Regions from separate parts of the Homo sapiens genome. Here all the other regions are linked to region 1. Evidence: fine-mapped expression QTL. A gene starts in region 1. Each other region holds a variant in brackets. All regions are shown on one strand. Distances are from middle to middle. Region 1 holds the start of LRP11 (LDL receptor related protein 11). Region 2 overlaps LRP11 (LDL receptor related protein 11). Region 3 overlaps TAB2 (TGF-beta activated kinase 1 (MAP3K7) binding protein 2).

Evidence for each region. PIP is the estimated chance that this variant, and not a neighbour inherited with it, causes the effect.
Region 2: its variant is fine-mapped to the expression of LRP11 in subcutaneous fat (GTEx, PIP above 0.99). The same link has a PIP of 0.9 or more in aorta, atrial appendage, coronary artery, esophagus mucosa, esophagus muscle and fibroblasts.
Region 3: its variant is fine-mapped to the expression of LRP11 in prefrontal cortex (GTEx, PIP above 0.99).

The regions. Positions count from the first base shown.
Region 1 is chr6:149,861,881-149,867,504 of GRCh38, forward strand. LRP11 (LDL receptor related protein 11) reads right to left here and starts at 2,479. Exons shown (of 7, transcript NM_032832.6): 1 at 1,528-2,479. The coding sequence starts at 2,140. It overlaps RAET1E-LRP11 (RAET1E-LRP11 readthrough), which reads right to left. Exons shown (of 15, transcript NR_182438.1): 8 at 3,336-3,464; 9 at 3,005-3,117. RAET1E-AS1 (RAET1E antisense RNA 1) reads left to right here and starts at 1,618. Exons shown (of 2, transcript NR_045126.1): 1 at 1,618-2,502. RefSeq lists silencers at 1,484-1,633, 1,804-1,913, 2,054-2,113, 2,184-2,633 and an enhancer at 2,290-2,790.
Region 2 is chr6:149,838,142-149,843,765 of GRCh38, forward strand. LRP11 (LDL receptor related protein 11) reads right to left here. Exons shown (of 7, transcript NM_032832.6): 3 at 4,842-4,983. It overlaps RAET1E-LRP11 (RAET1E-LRP11 readthrough), which reads right to left. Exons shown (of 15, transcript NR_182438.1): 11 at 4,842-4,983. Among named protein-coding and RNA genes, the nearest start is that of RAET1E-AS1, 23 kb to the right of the region's middle. The variant C/T (reference allele first, on the strand shown) is at 2,284.
Region 3 is chr6:149,394,366-149,399,365 of GRCh38, forward strand. It overlaps TAB2 (TGF-beta activated kinase 1 (MAP3K7) binding protein 2), which reads left to right. Exons shown (of 7, transcript NM_001292034.3): 4 at 3,239-3,399; 5 at 3,604-3,697; 6 at 4,739-4,819. Among named protein-coding and RNA genes, the nearest start is that of SUMO4, 3.4 kb to the right of the region's middle. The variant ACT/A (reference allele first, on the strand shown) is at 3,067.

The DNA of each region.
Region 1 (5,624 bases):
CCTTTTCAAAGGTTTCCTCTGGGTTTATAGGAAAGCTCACTTTGGCAATGTCAGTTTCTTCCAGGTAAGTAGTGAGAACACAGAGAAAAGACTTTGTTTCTTTGCTGCTGGGATATTTTGGTCTGTGTTTGGGCAGAGAGGATGTGTGTGCAACAGCCGTGGTGGGCCTCAGAGATGCTGATGGGGGGTCCAAGTGAAAGTGCTGCCTGCCTCCACTTCAGAAGGAAAGCTATGGAGTCCTTCCCAGTGTTTGCCTCAAGGCCAAGCAGTCGCAGGGTGACCCTTTGATATCTGCTCCCCTGACAAGGATTCTGAGCCTCATCTAAGGTAGAGGTGGGGAGGGAGGCAGGATGTGATGGACACAGATTTCCAGACTCTTTCAATGGATCCACAGGTTTTGGAGAATCCACACTTCCAAAGGGGCTGAGCTCCGCCCCCATCTTGCTGATATCATTCGTGCTATTATAAATCAAACAGCAACAGGGCATGATTAAACACACGGAGCCTGACCACACGTGGGCACAATCAAGGTCTCTTATTCCCTCCGTGACATTCATGTCCAACCACTACCATTTTTGTGCCTCCTGTATGTGTCCTGATTCTCTCATTCAGAGCATCTACAAAAAGTCAAACCGTCGAATCAGCATCATTTTTAGTCCTTAAGAAACACGCTTTAAAGTTTCCTATTTTCTTTTCCTTTTTTTTTTTTTTTTTTTAAGATGGAGTTTCGCTCTTGTTGCCCAGGCTGGAGTGCAATGGCGCGATCTCGGCTCACTGCAACCTCCGCCTCCTAGGTTCAAGCGATTCTCCTGCCTCAGCCTCCCGAATAGCTGGGATTACAGGCGCATGCCACCAGCTCTGGCTAATTTTTGTATTTTTAGTAGAGATGGGGTTTCATCACATTGGTCAGGCAGGTCTCAAACTCCTGACCTCAGGTGATCCGCCCTCCTCGGCCTCCCAAAGTGCTGGGATTACAGGCATAAGCCACCACGCCCGGCCTTAAAGTTTCTTATTTTCAACGAAAATCAAGTCCCCTCTTTTCACTTTTTATAAAAGGGACCAGAAGTTTTCCTCCCATTTTTGTATGATGAAAGCCACCGCAGGCAAAGTCAGGAGAGCCACGTCAAGAAAAAGGAGTGGGTGTTACGAGAAGCCCGGCATCTAATTAGATTTTGCTCTTGCAATTACTTAACACAAACCATGCCTTATACAACCCATGAGACTAAAACAAACTTTTTTCTCTCAGCATTTCTCCCCTTTTAAGTCATATTTCCACGAATCCTCTCAGATCAGCCTTTCTCTTCAAGCCTAGAAAAATTCCAGTAGCACGTCACCGCGCCCGCCCGCCCGCTTCTGCCAAACTACTGGGCTTCCTCTTCCCTAAGACAGAGAAACCCATGCCAGAAACTCTTCTGGGTGCCCGCGGCTAAAATAACTTGGCACGAGTGTGTTTCGCTTCCAACTTGGCGAGGGCGCTGCGGGTCTCGAGCGCTCTGGCCAAGGCCGGCCCCTCAGTCGCGCGCTTACCCTGCCGGGGCGAGGCGCGCGCGGTGGCCAGGGCGGCGCCGTCCGGCGCGCGGCTGAGGCTGTAGCTGCTGTAGCCGCTGTGCAGCGCGAACTTGCAGACGTTGCGGCCGCGCGCCGTGCAGTTGAAGAGGTAGCAGCCGAGCACGGCTGCCGGGGGCGCGGGGCGCCGGGGCAGCTCCACCACGGCCACGGAGCAGCGCGGCTCGGAGCAGCAGGCCGCCACGCATTGCCGCCAGCCCCGCACGGCCGCCGGCGCCCGCAGGAAGCTGGCACCCGCCGCCAGGGAGTCCTTGGTGCGGATGATGGCGTCAGGCATTGCGCTGTAGCCGCCGCTGCCCGGGCCCGGGCAGTCCTCCTGGGGGCCGCCGCCCGCGCGCAGCTCCAGCTCCAGCTCCTCCTGAGGCCGCTCCTGCTGCAGTTGCCGGCGGAACTCCTCCAGCAGCTGCTCCACGCCCGACAGCTGCGCGTGCAGTTCGGACAGCGGCGCCGCGGGCGGCAAGGCCGCACGGCCGCTTGGCAGCCACAGGCAGAGCAGTAGCAGCCCGCGCAGCGCCCCGTGACGCGGCGGTAGCCGGCGCTGCGAGCCCGCGCTCTCCTGGGCGACGGAGGCCATGGCGACGAGAGCCAAGGGCAGCGAGCCGAGGCGGGGCTGAGCGCGGGAGGAAGGCGGGGACGCGGGCGAGCGCGGGCCCTGGGCCCCTCCTGCGCGGCCGCGGCTGGCTCTAGGCCCCGGCCTCACAGCGCGGCGCCCCCGAACCCGGCTGCTCCCCCGAGGTCGCGGGCGCCGGCGGGAACCGCAGTAGCGGGAGACATAGCCGGCCCAGCCGGGCACCGCTCCTTGCCCTCGCCGGAGACTGCCCAGCGCCCTGCGCCTCTCCGCCCCGGCCTGCGGCGCGCTGGGTGGCGACGAGTCGGCCTCGGCGTTGATCAGCACCAGGTGTGTGCGAACAGTGGCCGCGGCGGGGTGGAGCCTTGGTGAGCCCCGCCCCCCCGCGCGGCCCCGCCCCCGCGCGTCTCGCGCCGGCTCCTCCAGGGCTGGGAGAGCAGGCCCCGGGGAGGGCAGCCTCAGAACAACTTTGCTCCCGCGCCGCTGCCCAGCTAGGGCAGGGTTCATGTCTGGGCCCAGCAGGCTTTAGCAACCAACCACACCTGCCCAGGGCGCCTGCCCACAGGGGCTTGGCATTCGGGGGAATGGGGGCAGTGGGAAGGGAGGGCCTGTCTTCAAATCCTCGTGACCCCCGGGACTACTCCAGAGAGGGGGCACGCGCACCTAGGACCACCGTAGCGCGTCATCAGTCCTTCACCTCCAGCGTCCCTGACTTTCCGCATCATGTTCCCAAGATGTGCTTGGGTAGTACAAAGTGGGGCGGGGTTGGGGTGGCGGAGTCAGGGCCGGGAGGGGTGGGGATGGGAAGTACTGAAAGATGTTCAGTCTGTTTAAAAACACAAAAATCAAGCCTGGTGAGGTGGTACTCGCCTGTAAGTCCTGAGGCTGAGTTGGGAGGATGGCTTGGACCCAGGAGTTCGAGACTGCAATGAGCTGTGATCACACCACTGTACTCCAGCCTGGGGGACAGAACAAGACCCTGTCTTTAAAAATAAAAACAAAACCCATAAATAGCAGTCGTCACATGCACTCAGATTTCCACAAATATAACAAAAAATCTGAACACAGCCAACATGGGGACCTGGGAGTAATACAGCCTGTGACAGAGAGGCCTCTAGCGGTTATATCACGTAAAATCTCGGGAGTTGTGCTTTAAATGACATAAGGAATAAGAAAATGTCCAACCCAGTGGGGGCTTCACCTTGGCGTTCTAGACTTCTGTGAGCAGCATCTGCATCTTGTTTGTTTCTGAATCAGTTTCTGTTGATTCATTTTTCTCCTGATTGTGGATCGCATTTTCTTGCTTTTTAGCCTGTCCGGAAATTTTTGCCTGGATGCGCACATTGTAAATAGAACACTGTTAAGTGTCTGTATTTTTTAGGATTGAAAGAATAAATAATTGGTGGGAAAATATCAGTCTCTGCTATGTGTTTATTATCTCCAGAGTTGACATTTAGGAACCCATTGCTTGCAGATCCAGATCAGAGTAGGAGGTAAAATTAAAAGGTAGCAATAGAAAAGAAAGAAAAAAGCTCAATGTTACTTGCCATTCCATCAAAGGGAGAAATTATAAAGTTTTTGCAGGGGTATATTTGAGTGATTTTTGAGGCTAAAAGAAATGGCCTCTTAGCTCTAAAGGCTGTGTCTGGACTGTACCACTTCGGCCTGGAGATTCTTCCTCATATGGCATACTCATCCCACACAACTGCAGTCATTGTAAGATGACCTTGAAGCAACATAATGCTTTTTATTTTTTATTTTTATTTTTTGCCATAGACCTTGGAGAGCTTGAGCAGGATTGTTATGAGGAGAAACTTTCACTAGTGATGAAAATGCTGACTGAGGGTATCATCAAACCCTCCAAGGACTAGTTGTTATATAAGTTATTAATATTAAAAATAACATGATAATATATAATATTAACTAAGAATTGTACATGATTTCAAAGTTTGCCAAACACTTTCACATACATGATTTTATGTGCCTTCACAGAGACTTTGACCACCTCACTCCTGCCTTTGGGACCGTGAAAGAGAAGTCAGTATAGAGTGAGCCCTAGCTCACATGTTCCGTGGTAGGGAAGTGGACAGGGGAGAGGACAGCATTTCTCAGGGGCATTCATTTCTAAATCCCTCCAGCACCATCAAAGATTTTCCTGCATCTGCAACTTTACAATAGGTCTTTTTGGGAGAAGTGGAAATTATTTAATGTTGTGTTTACCGTGAGCAGTGGTTATTTCTGGGCTGTGAGTTGCAAGTACTGAAGGGGAAATACTGACTTTTATAATTTATAAGACTTTGTTGAATTTTTTTTTTGCAATGAGCTTGTTGTAAATGATTTTCTATTTTTTAAAAATAAGTGTTGACATCTGCTTCAGCCAGGAGGGAGCAACAAGGACTGGACTTACTCTGTGACCTGAAATGAAAAATCTGTGAAAAAAATGTATGGAACAATGGTTTTCAGACATTGGGCAACAGGCAATGCAGGGCCCAAGAGAAGGGAGACAAAGGAAGTGAACATGCTGCTTGCTCCAGCTTACTGCCTGGAGAGGGTTTCCAAGCCGCAATGCAGACAGGCGAACCAAAAGAGACTCTGAGTTGGAAAATAGAGCTGAGAATTCAGGGAGGCCAGGGTGGCTAGAGTACCAGAGAGGAGAGAGTGCAACGGAAGGAGGGAGCTCTGGAGATCTGTGCAGGGTTCCTCTGAGTCTTCAGCAGAAGTTCGACCAGGTACATGCATGTGAGGAAACTTCCCAAGACAGAGAGGCAACCACTAGAAAAAAGCTGGCAGAAAAACTTCTGAGCTTGCATTGGCCAGGCAATAGTTCGTTCCCAACAGCCAGAGTGGAGAAACCTTGTGACAAGAGGCATGAGTTTGAGTAGGAAGGGAAGGGATTACAGAGAAGCACATGAAAACTTTTGCAGGTGATAGGTGTGTTCATTACCTTGATTGTGGTGATGGTTTCACTGGTGAATACATTGATCAAAGTTCATCAAATTGTGTATTTTAAGTGGGTATAGTCAATTATATGTTAATAAGGCTATTTTTTAAAAACGAAGTTTCATTGCACTGTGCATTGTGATTTATCTTCTTTTTCTAGTTCTCTTTTCAGTTTTTTTCAGAAATAAACTATCTTTGTTTTAAAAGCCTAAACATCAAAACCTTATCAATGGATAGAAGAATTTTTATGTGAGGATGAAAATGTCAGGAAGATGTGTTTCTGTTTTATAAGATAGATCATTAAGAGTAAGAGTGGATCAAATTGAGATTGGACTTCGTAGGTCAGTTTGTTGAATGTTGGAATGAGATAACCTGTGTCTTAGCTGGGCTGCTGTAACAGAATACCACAGACTGGGAGGCTTCTAAACAACAGAAATTTATTCCTCACAATTCTAGTGGCTGAGAAGTTCAAGATCATGGTGCTGGCAGACGCTGATATCTGGTGAGGGCCCACTTCCTGGTTCATAGACAGCAGTCTTCTCACTGAGTC
Region 2 (5,624 bases), 24 kb before region 1:
CTCCTGACCTCAACTGATCCACCTGCCTCGGCCTCCCAAAGTGCTGGGATTACAGGTGTTAGCCACCGTGCCTGGCCCAGAGGTACTATTTTACATATGCTATGTCTTACATTCTTGTCTCCTAAGTAATACTTTTCACTGAGATTAAGTTTTTACTATTGAATCCTATTTGTTGATTATCATAACGTCCCTGGTACTGTAGAGAATAAACAAAATTTAGTTATGGGCTGGCATGAATTTAGTTTCATGAAATAATGACATTGGCCAGGCGTGGTGGCTCACACCTGTAATCCCAGCACTTTGGGAAGCTAAGGCGGGTGGATCACAAGGTCAGGAGATCGAGACCATCCTGGCTAACACGGTGAAACCCCGTCTCTACTAAAAATACAAAAAATTAGCCGGGCTTGGTGGCATGCACCTGTAGTCCCAGGTACTCGGGAGGCTGAGACAGGAGAATCACTTGAGTCTGGGAGGCAGAGGTTGCAGTGAGCCAAGATTGTGACACTGCACTCCAGCCTGGGCGACAGAGGGAGACTCTGTCTCAAAAAAAAAAAAAAAGAAAGAAATAACGACATTTCTCCCTTCTGGAGTTCTTAGGAGCTTTTAATTTGCAGTGCAATTCATAGGAGCTACAAATATTTTCCTGAAATGCATTTTCCCTCTCCCTTGATTAAGCCAACTTTATTAGACTTAGCTAGAGGAGAACCGGGTGACTATCTGGTACTGGCAACATGGACTAAGGCACAAGGCTAGAAGCAGGTCACAGGAGCTCCACGGTTTTACAGGGACAGAGTGGACTAGACAATTCTCTCAGGAACATGGGGAAGTGGCAGATTATATGATATTCCTTCAAAACCAAATGGCTGAGCACAGTTCACAAACCCAAGTGAAATCTTGGACATACACTTGGTTTTTTTTTGTTTTTTTTTTTTTTGTAGATACAGGGTGTCACTATGTTGCCCAGGCTGGTCTTGAACTACTGGACTCAAGCAATCCTCCTGCCTCAGCCTCCCAAAGTGCTGAGATTACAGGTGTAAGCCACTGCGCCCGGCCTTGGACACATCTTTTATTGAAACGTGGTTAAATCAAGAGGTTGGAAAAGGAGTCTATCTTGGTGTGAGGCAATTTGAAGATATATTGATCCAGGAGGAAGAGAAGTTAAAGAAAATAAATGGTGATAGAAGCTCCTGCGGAAGAAGAGGAAGCAAAGAGCCTGCAGTTATGACTGAGAACATGGGCCTGAAGGAGAGTCAGCTCCGGCCACTGGGAAGAAGCAGGGAGCGGAGGTGGGGGACACGCTGGATATCAAGCAGGATACAGTTCCTCGTCAGGTTTCTTAAATTCATGGCATGAAAATCCCAGATATCTCAAGGTTTTATTTATTCTTTGGTGATTTTGGAGATGGATCCATATTTGTAAATTTTCTATCTATTTTTGGATTAGCAGCCTCCAAACTTTTTTGATCATGCATCCTGATCAATAATATATTGTTGAACAGGCATCTCCAGTTTATTTATTTATCTATTTATTTGAGACGGAGTCTCGCTGTGTCGCCCAGGCTGGAGTGCGGTGGCACAATCTCAGCTCACTGCAGCCTCCAGCTCCCAGGCTCAACTGACTCTCATGTCTCAGCCTCCTGAGTAGCTGGGATTACAGGCGTGTCCCACCACATCCGGCTAGTCCGGTTTATTTATAAATAATACGTGCATACTACTGTACTAACATGGGGTGTATCTTATAAAATATACTCAAATTTTAAGGAAAAAAATTAAAAATCAGCAAAAATATAAACTCTGCTGTCTTCTTTCTCACCCTAAAAATGTCTTGAACAACTCAGGGGCATCCTGTTTGGAGACTGCTGAGTTAGATCATGTTGGAAGAGCTTGCTGGCTTGCTGTTTGATCATTTTTCTAAGCATGAAAAATGTTCAAAATGTCAACTTATTAAAAATTGAACCAAGTTATGATCATATAAGCAGGGTACCTGCTCATCTGTCTACCTCAGCTAGTGTCACCCTTGGTTACCATAACATCTGGGTCATTCATTGCAAGACCAATACATACAATGCAGGGGAGGGAAACACTTGTCTCTTCTACCTCTATTTTCCAATGTCTCTCTGTGGTGTTTTATTAACTTTAATTCATAGCATGTTATTCCAATATAACCACTAAGTGATTCTAGACAGCAGTTAGTACTTCACCAATTCCTTTTTATTTTCCATATAAAGTTACCCACACAAGACCTATACTCAAGCGGCCACTGAGTAATCAAAAATGATTCACA[C/T]ACCACTCTCTGCTACTTCAAATACAGTTTATTATCATCTTGGAGAAGGGCCAGAAATTTACAGCTGGCAATTTACCTCTGGAGCCCGGAAAGCTGCCTGAGGAAATAAACCAGGACAAACAAGTGGCCGGTGAGGTGCTGGCCATCTGCTCATATCAGTGCAGGCCCTTCCTCCCTCCCAGGCACTTCAGCTGTACAAGAGCAATCCTTTTCTGATTTCTGTGGGGATGACAGGGTATCTGTGTCTTTTTCCCAAGAGTCCCTTCCTCCCAGAGTCAGCACTTGACTCAGACCCTGTCCAGGTGAGTCCCGGTACCCAGGGGGAAAGCCCTCTAGAGGGCGCCCAGATCTACAGAAGTGAGCCATCCCTGCTGGAGACAATGTCATGTCTCCACTGGTCCTGGTGGCCAAGGGACCAATGATGTTTTGAGTAGCTGCCCAGCAAAGGGACTCAACAATGTTTTGAGTAGCTGGCTGGCTCTCCTGTCCAGCTGCAATGAATTAGCAGGGCTGATGGAATCCGGGCTGAGCTGGACAGACTGTTTACTCGCTATCACTGGTGACCTCACAGTGCTGGCACGGGCTGGAGTTTGGTGCCTGTCCTGTCTGTGAATGGTTACCCTGCTTCCTTACAGTAAGCTTAACCCCTGGCTGGACAGGTTGTCATCAGCCAAACAAATTTTTAATGCCGCCTATGAAAATTATCAAAGTTGACAAGTCCTTAGGATCCTAAAATCTCTAACTCCTTAGAAAATTTCATTTCCAGTATGCATACTAACCTCAGTTTTTGATAGAAGGCTAGATCCAATATAGTACAAGTAAATCACAGTCCTGTTCCAACTCTTTTATCCTCATTCTGCACTCTGCTGGCTTAATTACCATCTGGATCCTGAGTATTGAATACTGAGAATTCAAAAATGTCACAGACTTACTGCAAGTTTACCAGAGTCAGGGACCACCAGTGCACCACTCTATCCCCAGTGCCTGGCAAGGACCCTGCACACTGCATACACTAAGAAAATACACGATGACCGAGTAACAGGATATTTAAATGTACAAGACCTTAGCACCTCTCCAGAAGTGAATTGTGTGTGTGGTGAGGGGTTCCCTCTACAATACTACAATATCTTTAGTGTCGCTAAGTTCCATGCAATGGATATTTTAAAAAATTTGATGACCTAATCTTTCTTAGACATGTAGACGTTGGGCTGGGCGCGGTGGTTCACGCCTGTAGTCTAAGTGCTTCGGGAGGCTGAGGCGGGTGGATCACCTGAGGTCAGGAATTCGAGACCAGGTTGGCCAACATGGTGAAACCCTGTCTCTACTAAAAATACAAAATTAGCAGGGCGTGGTGGTGCACACCTGTAGTCCCAGCTACTTGGGAGGCTGAGGCAGGAGAATCACTTGAACCCAGGAGGCAGAGGCTGCAGTGAGCCGAGACTGCACCACTGCACTCCCACTCCAGCCTAGGCAACAAGAGCAAAACTCCCTCTCAAAAAAAAAATGTAGATGTTTAGAAAAGTAAGAAACATAGATGAATGAAATAAGTTTTACATTGTTACATTGTACAACAGAATGTGAGAACCATCATATGTATTTAAAGTTATATTATTAATATAACTGCATCTGCGTAAAGTGTCTATGAAAATGTGTAGGTAGCACTTTCAAATTGATGGGTCCTTTGCGTATTTCAATTAATTTTAACCGTACTCCTTAGCTGCACTCTTTTTCTCTTTCTAAAATTTTTGAAGTGACTTATTATATCAGCAATTGATTACACCCAAGAGCCAAGTCTTTCTTCAATCCTGTGGTATGCCTTTTCCTTGTTTTTTTAATATGTATTTTTAATTGACAAAAGAGGAGAGTATATATTTATGAGGCACAATGTGATGTTTTGATATATGTTTGCATTGTGGAATGATTACATCAAGCTAACTGACATATCTATCATCTCCCCTACTTGTAATCTTTTTGTGATGACAACATTTAAAACCTACTGTTTTAGCAATTTTGAAACAGACAATACATTATCATTAACTATAGTCACCATGCTGTGCAACAGATCACCAGAACCTGTTCCTCCGGTCTCAGTGACACTTTGTACCCTTTGACCAGCGTCTCTCCTTTCCCAGTCCGTCCCCCGCACAGCCTCCAGTAACCGCCATTCCACTCTCTGCTTCCACGAGTTCAACTGGTTTCACTAAACTCCTTAGCTTCCCTCTTGGAACAGATGCAGCAAATGGACCATCCATCTGTAAACAAAGTCCTCTCCCAGAATAGCCAAGCAATTGTCTTTGATGAAGTCGAGTCAAGAGAAGCGGGAGCATCTCTTCTCATCCCCTGGAGTGCTTCCTCCACCCCAACCCAGTAGCATCGGCTAAGCCCAAAACAGAAGAGAGCCTGCTTTTGTTATTGTGTTTTTAGCAAAGACTCTCTCATTCAGCAATAACCAAAAATAAAATGGAAGAGCCCATGGAGCGCAGAGCCAGAGGACAAAGCGCCAACCCGACATTGCCTTCCACAAGCAGTGGGAAGCGAGGGAAGGACTTTCTTCTCACCTCCTGTGGAGTAGGCTGCGCGAAGCACTGTCACTGACACGTTGTCAGAGCTTCTCTGCCCGGCAGTGTCCGTCACGGTCAGCTGGAAGGTGTAGGTTCCCTCCTGTAGGTGGGACAGCTTCAGGGTTCCTGATTGAGGCACCTGCCACACAGATGGGACACATCACGTCGAGCAGCAGACTTGAGCTCCGAGCCCAACACCATCCTCAACCGAAAGTCCATGTCCTCAGAGCAGCCCCAGGACCTGCCTCTGCACTCCGGCCCGAGGCTGCTGAACTACATCACACACTGTTGGCAGCTGGCCCACCTTGAACTCATAAGTTCTAGTTTATTTAGGTGGCCAAGGCCTTGACTGACAATCCCTTCACTTGTCTGCAGCAGTTGCTGCTCCAAACCTGCACCTCATCCCCAGCCTCACGCTCAGGATCCAGGCCCTGCCGTCTCAGCAGGGGGACTCATCAGCTTCAGGGAGAAAATCAGGACCATGACTAGGGCTCCACCACCCACCTCCTCCTGGTACCCTACCTGTACCCACTGTCACTTCCTTCTGACAGCCAGCAGGGAGAAGCTGTCCCTCCTGTGTTCCAGGCCAACCCCTCCTTCTAGTCCTTGCCCCCTTTCTTTCTAGGACCTTTAGAACACTGACACATCGACTCATTTCTCTTTCAAATGGCTCTGCTATTACTATGCTCAAGTTTCTCTCATCCTAAGAAACAAACAAAACAACAAATAAAAAAAATTCCCTGAGCTCTAAGGGCTCACCAGCCACAGCCCCGCTTCCTT
Region 3 (5,000 bases), 470 kb before region 1:
AATCATAGTTACATCTTTAAGTTTTCTGTCAGGTAATTCCAGCTGCATCATCTTTGAGTATAGTTCTGTTGATCACTTTATCTCTTGATGATGAATTACATTTTTCTCCTGCTTGTATGTCTCATAATTTTTTATTGAATGCCACACACTATGTGTAAAGGAACAGAGGAGACTAAAGTAAATGGTATTTGCACCCAGAAATGAGGACATCTCTTTTTCTTTCAGGTTATTATTATGAGGCATTGCATCAATTTAGTCAGGAGTGGAGCTGGGTTTGGGTTTTGTTGTTGCCTTCAGTGCACCACAGTCTTCAGATACTTCCAGCAATTGACTGCTATTACTTTATGCTTCTTAGAGTAGTGCCTGAAGTGCAAGATATTTATTTTGAGTCCTTTTATTTTGAACCTGTCTGTGCTATGATAGATCCCCATTTTATTCAGAGTCCTTAATATGGTCAGCAAGGCTCTACGTGATCTGGTAGAGGGCCAGATAGTAATCATTTAGGATTTTGTAGGCCACATAATCTCTGTCACAACTATTTAATTCTGCTGTTGTAAAATGGAAACAGCCATAGACAACAAGTAAACAAATGAGCAAGGCTGTATCCAATAAAACTTTAATGACGAAACAGGCAGTGGGCTAGATTTGGCCCATGGGCCATAGTTTGCCTACCTGTTTACCCTTTGTTTAGAGTCTTTCTCTTGCCCTACTCCCTGGCCCCAATCTCTGCTACCGTGGTAACGTGAGCTCCGCAAGGGCAAGGATTTTTTCCTATTTTGTTCATGGACTTCCAAAATGCCTACAACAACATCTGACACATAGACCCTCAACTTATTAAAATAATAGATAAGTTAATTATGTTTTGAGTGTTTTTTATAAGCAGCATATAGCTGAGGTTTTACAATTCAGTCTACTGATCTCATCTCAACAGATATGTTTAATTAGGTTGCATTCATTGTGATTTCTAGTATATTTGGAATTATCCCTGTCTGGTTTTTGTTTTGTATTTCTTTCCTTTATCCCCTCCTTTCCTGCTATCTAGGTTTAATTAAATTTCCCTCATTTCTCCTTAGGTTCTGTCTTTGAATTTAGAAACTGCACATTCTGTTTTAACTTCCTTTAGCACAGATCCCTAAATACTGAACATGTATATTTGGCTTAGCAACATTTAACTGTATTCTTCTTAAATACCTTCAAGACCTTAGAATACTTCACCTCTGATTTTTGCACTTCCAGTGTATTGTTATTCTTTTCCAATGTTTTATTTTCACTTTGTTTTAGACAATGTCTGCTGCTCCCCTGCCCTGCCATAGTCTTTTCCTTTGTTTTATTGTCAGAGCTTTTTTTTTTTAGATTTACTCATCTTATTCCATTCTTTTGTGTTTAATTTCCTTCTTATCAGAACATATATTGAGTAGTTATTTCAGCAGCTATCTGTGATTGTTGAATTTCCCCAGACTTTGTTGGAAATACCTTTATTCATTTGTATTCTTGTATAATTTAATTAGGTGAACAAATTATTTTATCTTCTAAAATTTGTTACTTCCTTTTTTCCCTTCAATTTTGAAACATTTTCAGCCAATATCTCTTCACATCTTGCCTCTTGTCTATTCTCTCTGTTGTCTCCTTCTGGAATTCTTTTCTCTCTCTGTCTCCCCCTACCCGCCCCCGAGTTGGAGTCTCACTCTGTCATCCAGGCTGGAGTGCAGTGGTGTGATCTCGGCTTACTGCAACCTCTGCCTCCCGGGTTCAAGCAATTCTCCTGCCTCAGCCTCCCAAGTAGCTGGGATTACAGGCATCCACCACCACGCCCGGCAACTTTTTGTATTTTTAGTAGAAACGAGGTTTCACCATGTTGGCCAGTCTGGTCTCGAACTCCTGACCTCAGATGATCCACCCTTCTCGGCCTCCCCAAAGTGCTGGAGTTACAGGTGTGAGCCACCATGCCCAGCCTGGAATTTTTTTCTTAGATGTCTGTGAGACCTTTCAGAACTCTTCTTTCATTTTTTCTGTCACATTATCTGTGCATTCTGGGTAACATTCTTACATCTATCTGACAGGTCACCAACTGTCTTTGTATGTAATCTACTGTAATCTGTTTGGCTTTTTCATTTCAGTGACTTTTATTTCTAGAGGTTGTTTAAAGTTCTTTTCCAAATCTGCTTTATTTTTCTCAAGATAGAATCATCCCATGTTGTTTCTTTATAAAAAGTAGATTCAAGTATCTTCACTTCCAGTCCAGTATCCTAAAGGATGAGATTCATGTCCAGGGACAGATCACAAAAACATATACCAGTATTTGTAGTTTATTATGGTTTCCCAAGTAGTTCATGCTGCAGGATTGATTGCTTATTTTGTTTCTTTAAAGATCTTGGAAGATATTTTCACAAAATATAATCTGAATATACAAAAATATAAGTGGCAATTGGGATAATTTAATGTTAACATTTATGTGGAGTGAAATCAATCTGCCTGTTTTATTTGTTGCATACATCAAAATGGATTCTACATTCCCTTCTAAAATATCTATAACATTTTCATATTAGAATGCTTCATTCATAGACCAAACATGACAAACTCTGAAGTAAGAGAGCTTGTCCTTTCCGAGGGTAGATGTGAATTAGATACAGTAGTAAGTAGGTTAACTGAAAAGACGAAAACCTTTAGAGAAGCTGTAGCCTAAAAATGCTGTCTTCATTCATAAAGTGAATTTCTCCAAATCCTAGAAAACATTTAAAAAGTGGCATTTGTTTAAATGACTAAAACAATTTTTCAGTTAAAATGTTTGGAATTTGGCCAGGCACAGTGGCACAAGCCTCTAATCCCAGCACTTTGGTAGGCCAAGGCAGGCGGATCACCTGGGGTCCAGAGTTCGAGACCAGCCTGACCAACATGGTGAAACCTCATCTCTACTAAAAATACAAAATTAGTGGGGTGTGGTGGCAGTTGCCCATAATCCCAGCTACTTGGGAGGCTGAGGCAGGAGAATCACTTGAACCCAGGAGGCAGAGGTTGCACTGAGCCGAGATCGCACCATTGCACTCCAGCCTGAGCAACAAGAGTAAA[ACT/A]CTGTGTCAAAAAAAAAAAAAAATTGAAATTTTAAATGCCTAAACTTACAATATTTTGTTTTAATGTAGCTTTGGGATTTCTGACAAATTCTTGTTTGCTTTTCCAAGTCTGCTTAAAGGTTAATTGATTAAAGTGGGTGGGTCCTCATGTTTACTAATGTGTGTTGCAGCTCTTTTGGTACACCAGAAGGCCAGAATGGAACGACTTCAAAGAGAACTTGAGATTCAAAAGAAAAAGCTGGATAAATTAAAATCTGAGGTTAATGAAATGGAAAATAATCTAACTCGAAGGCGCCTGAAAAGATCAAATTCTATATCCCAGATACCTTCCGTAAGTCTTTATGTAACTGTTGTGATCTCTGCTTGAACATGAGAGTAGGCCATCTAACATAAGTGTAATATCTCTATCTAGTTTTCTTCAGATGTTCTTAACTCTTGTTTTTCTGTCCTTACTTTCTTGTGCCAAACTCCATTCTTTATTAACTAATGACTAAGAATTCAGTGCAAATCTTACTTACATAGAATTATTTTTCAGCTTGAAGAAATGCAGCAGCTGAGAAGTTGTAATAGACAACTCCAGATTGACATTGACTGCTTAACCAAAGAAATTGATCTTTTTCAAGCCCGAGGTAAAGTTCAGTGTATTTGTAGCTGAAATTCATCGTATTTAATTCACCAGCAGTTTTTCTGTGGCTAAAAACAGACTTATCAATCATAATCTTACTGTCTCAGAACATGTGGCTTTGGAGCCAGACAGACTTTTAAGAATATATTTAAAAAGTCACCCCCATCTCAATGGCACTATCTTAACTGATAAAATATAGAAGATAGTAAAAATAAGGTTTATACATTCTTTAGACAATGATAGTTTCTTATACTTGAGCTATTAATGACAAGCAATGTTTTCTTATAGTAAATAATGTTTACAATTTAATTCAGTTCCATAGAGAACTAAAAGGAAATGTTATCACTTAAACCTAATTCTGAAGTTGGATAAATAATAAAAAGATATAAAATGGAAAAGACAGGAAGGGGAAGGAATCTAACCAAAAGAGAAGTCTTTAATCACACTTGGGACTGTGTTCTAGAATCTGTTCAACTGGAAGATGATTATTTTTATTTTTATTCTTTTTAAATGTTGATTAAGCTATTTATCTTTAAACATTCATAGAAAAATACCATAATTTAACTCTAAAAAGTTGGTGCTGTTCTAGAAACTACAATCCTTGAACTTACTCTTTTTGTGTAAAATTTTAACCATTCTATTACATAGTGCAAGGTTTTTATATTTACTTGAGGTAAAGCTGTTTAGTTACTTAAGTCCATGTTTGATCGTTTAAAATTACATTTTAAATTGTGAAATTTTAAGTTATTTTAACTTGCCACATAGAACAGGGATCTACTTCTACTTCTATTAATGTCTTACCAGCATTAATTTGACTTCTTTCACAGTTTACCACTTACCCGTGTTTATGAGTACTACATTATACCTAAGATAATATATTTGAAATATGTTTTGAAATCTTACATATAATTCGAGGTTAGAGGGGCAAAATAAATGAAAAGCATTTCTTATAGCGTGTTTATTTTTAGAAAGAAATACTTGTTTTAAAAAGTAAAGTTGTTTTTGAGCTATAAGCATTGATATATTTACTTTTTATATATTTCAGGACCACATTTTAACCCCAGCGCTATTCATAACTTTTATGACAATATTGGATTTGTAGGTCCTGTGCCACCAAAACCCAAAGGTTAGTGTATCCATTAAATGTGAAAACTGTTACTTTTGAAAAGCAAAATTTTAGAAAATTTTTCCTGTTCAGCAACCTTCCTCTCTAGAATTGCTTCAAACTTTGGCATTCTTAAATGAATTCATTAAGAAGATGTTTGCTTATTTTCATTTACATGCTTGGGGTTGGGAAGGATGCAAAG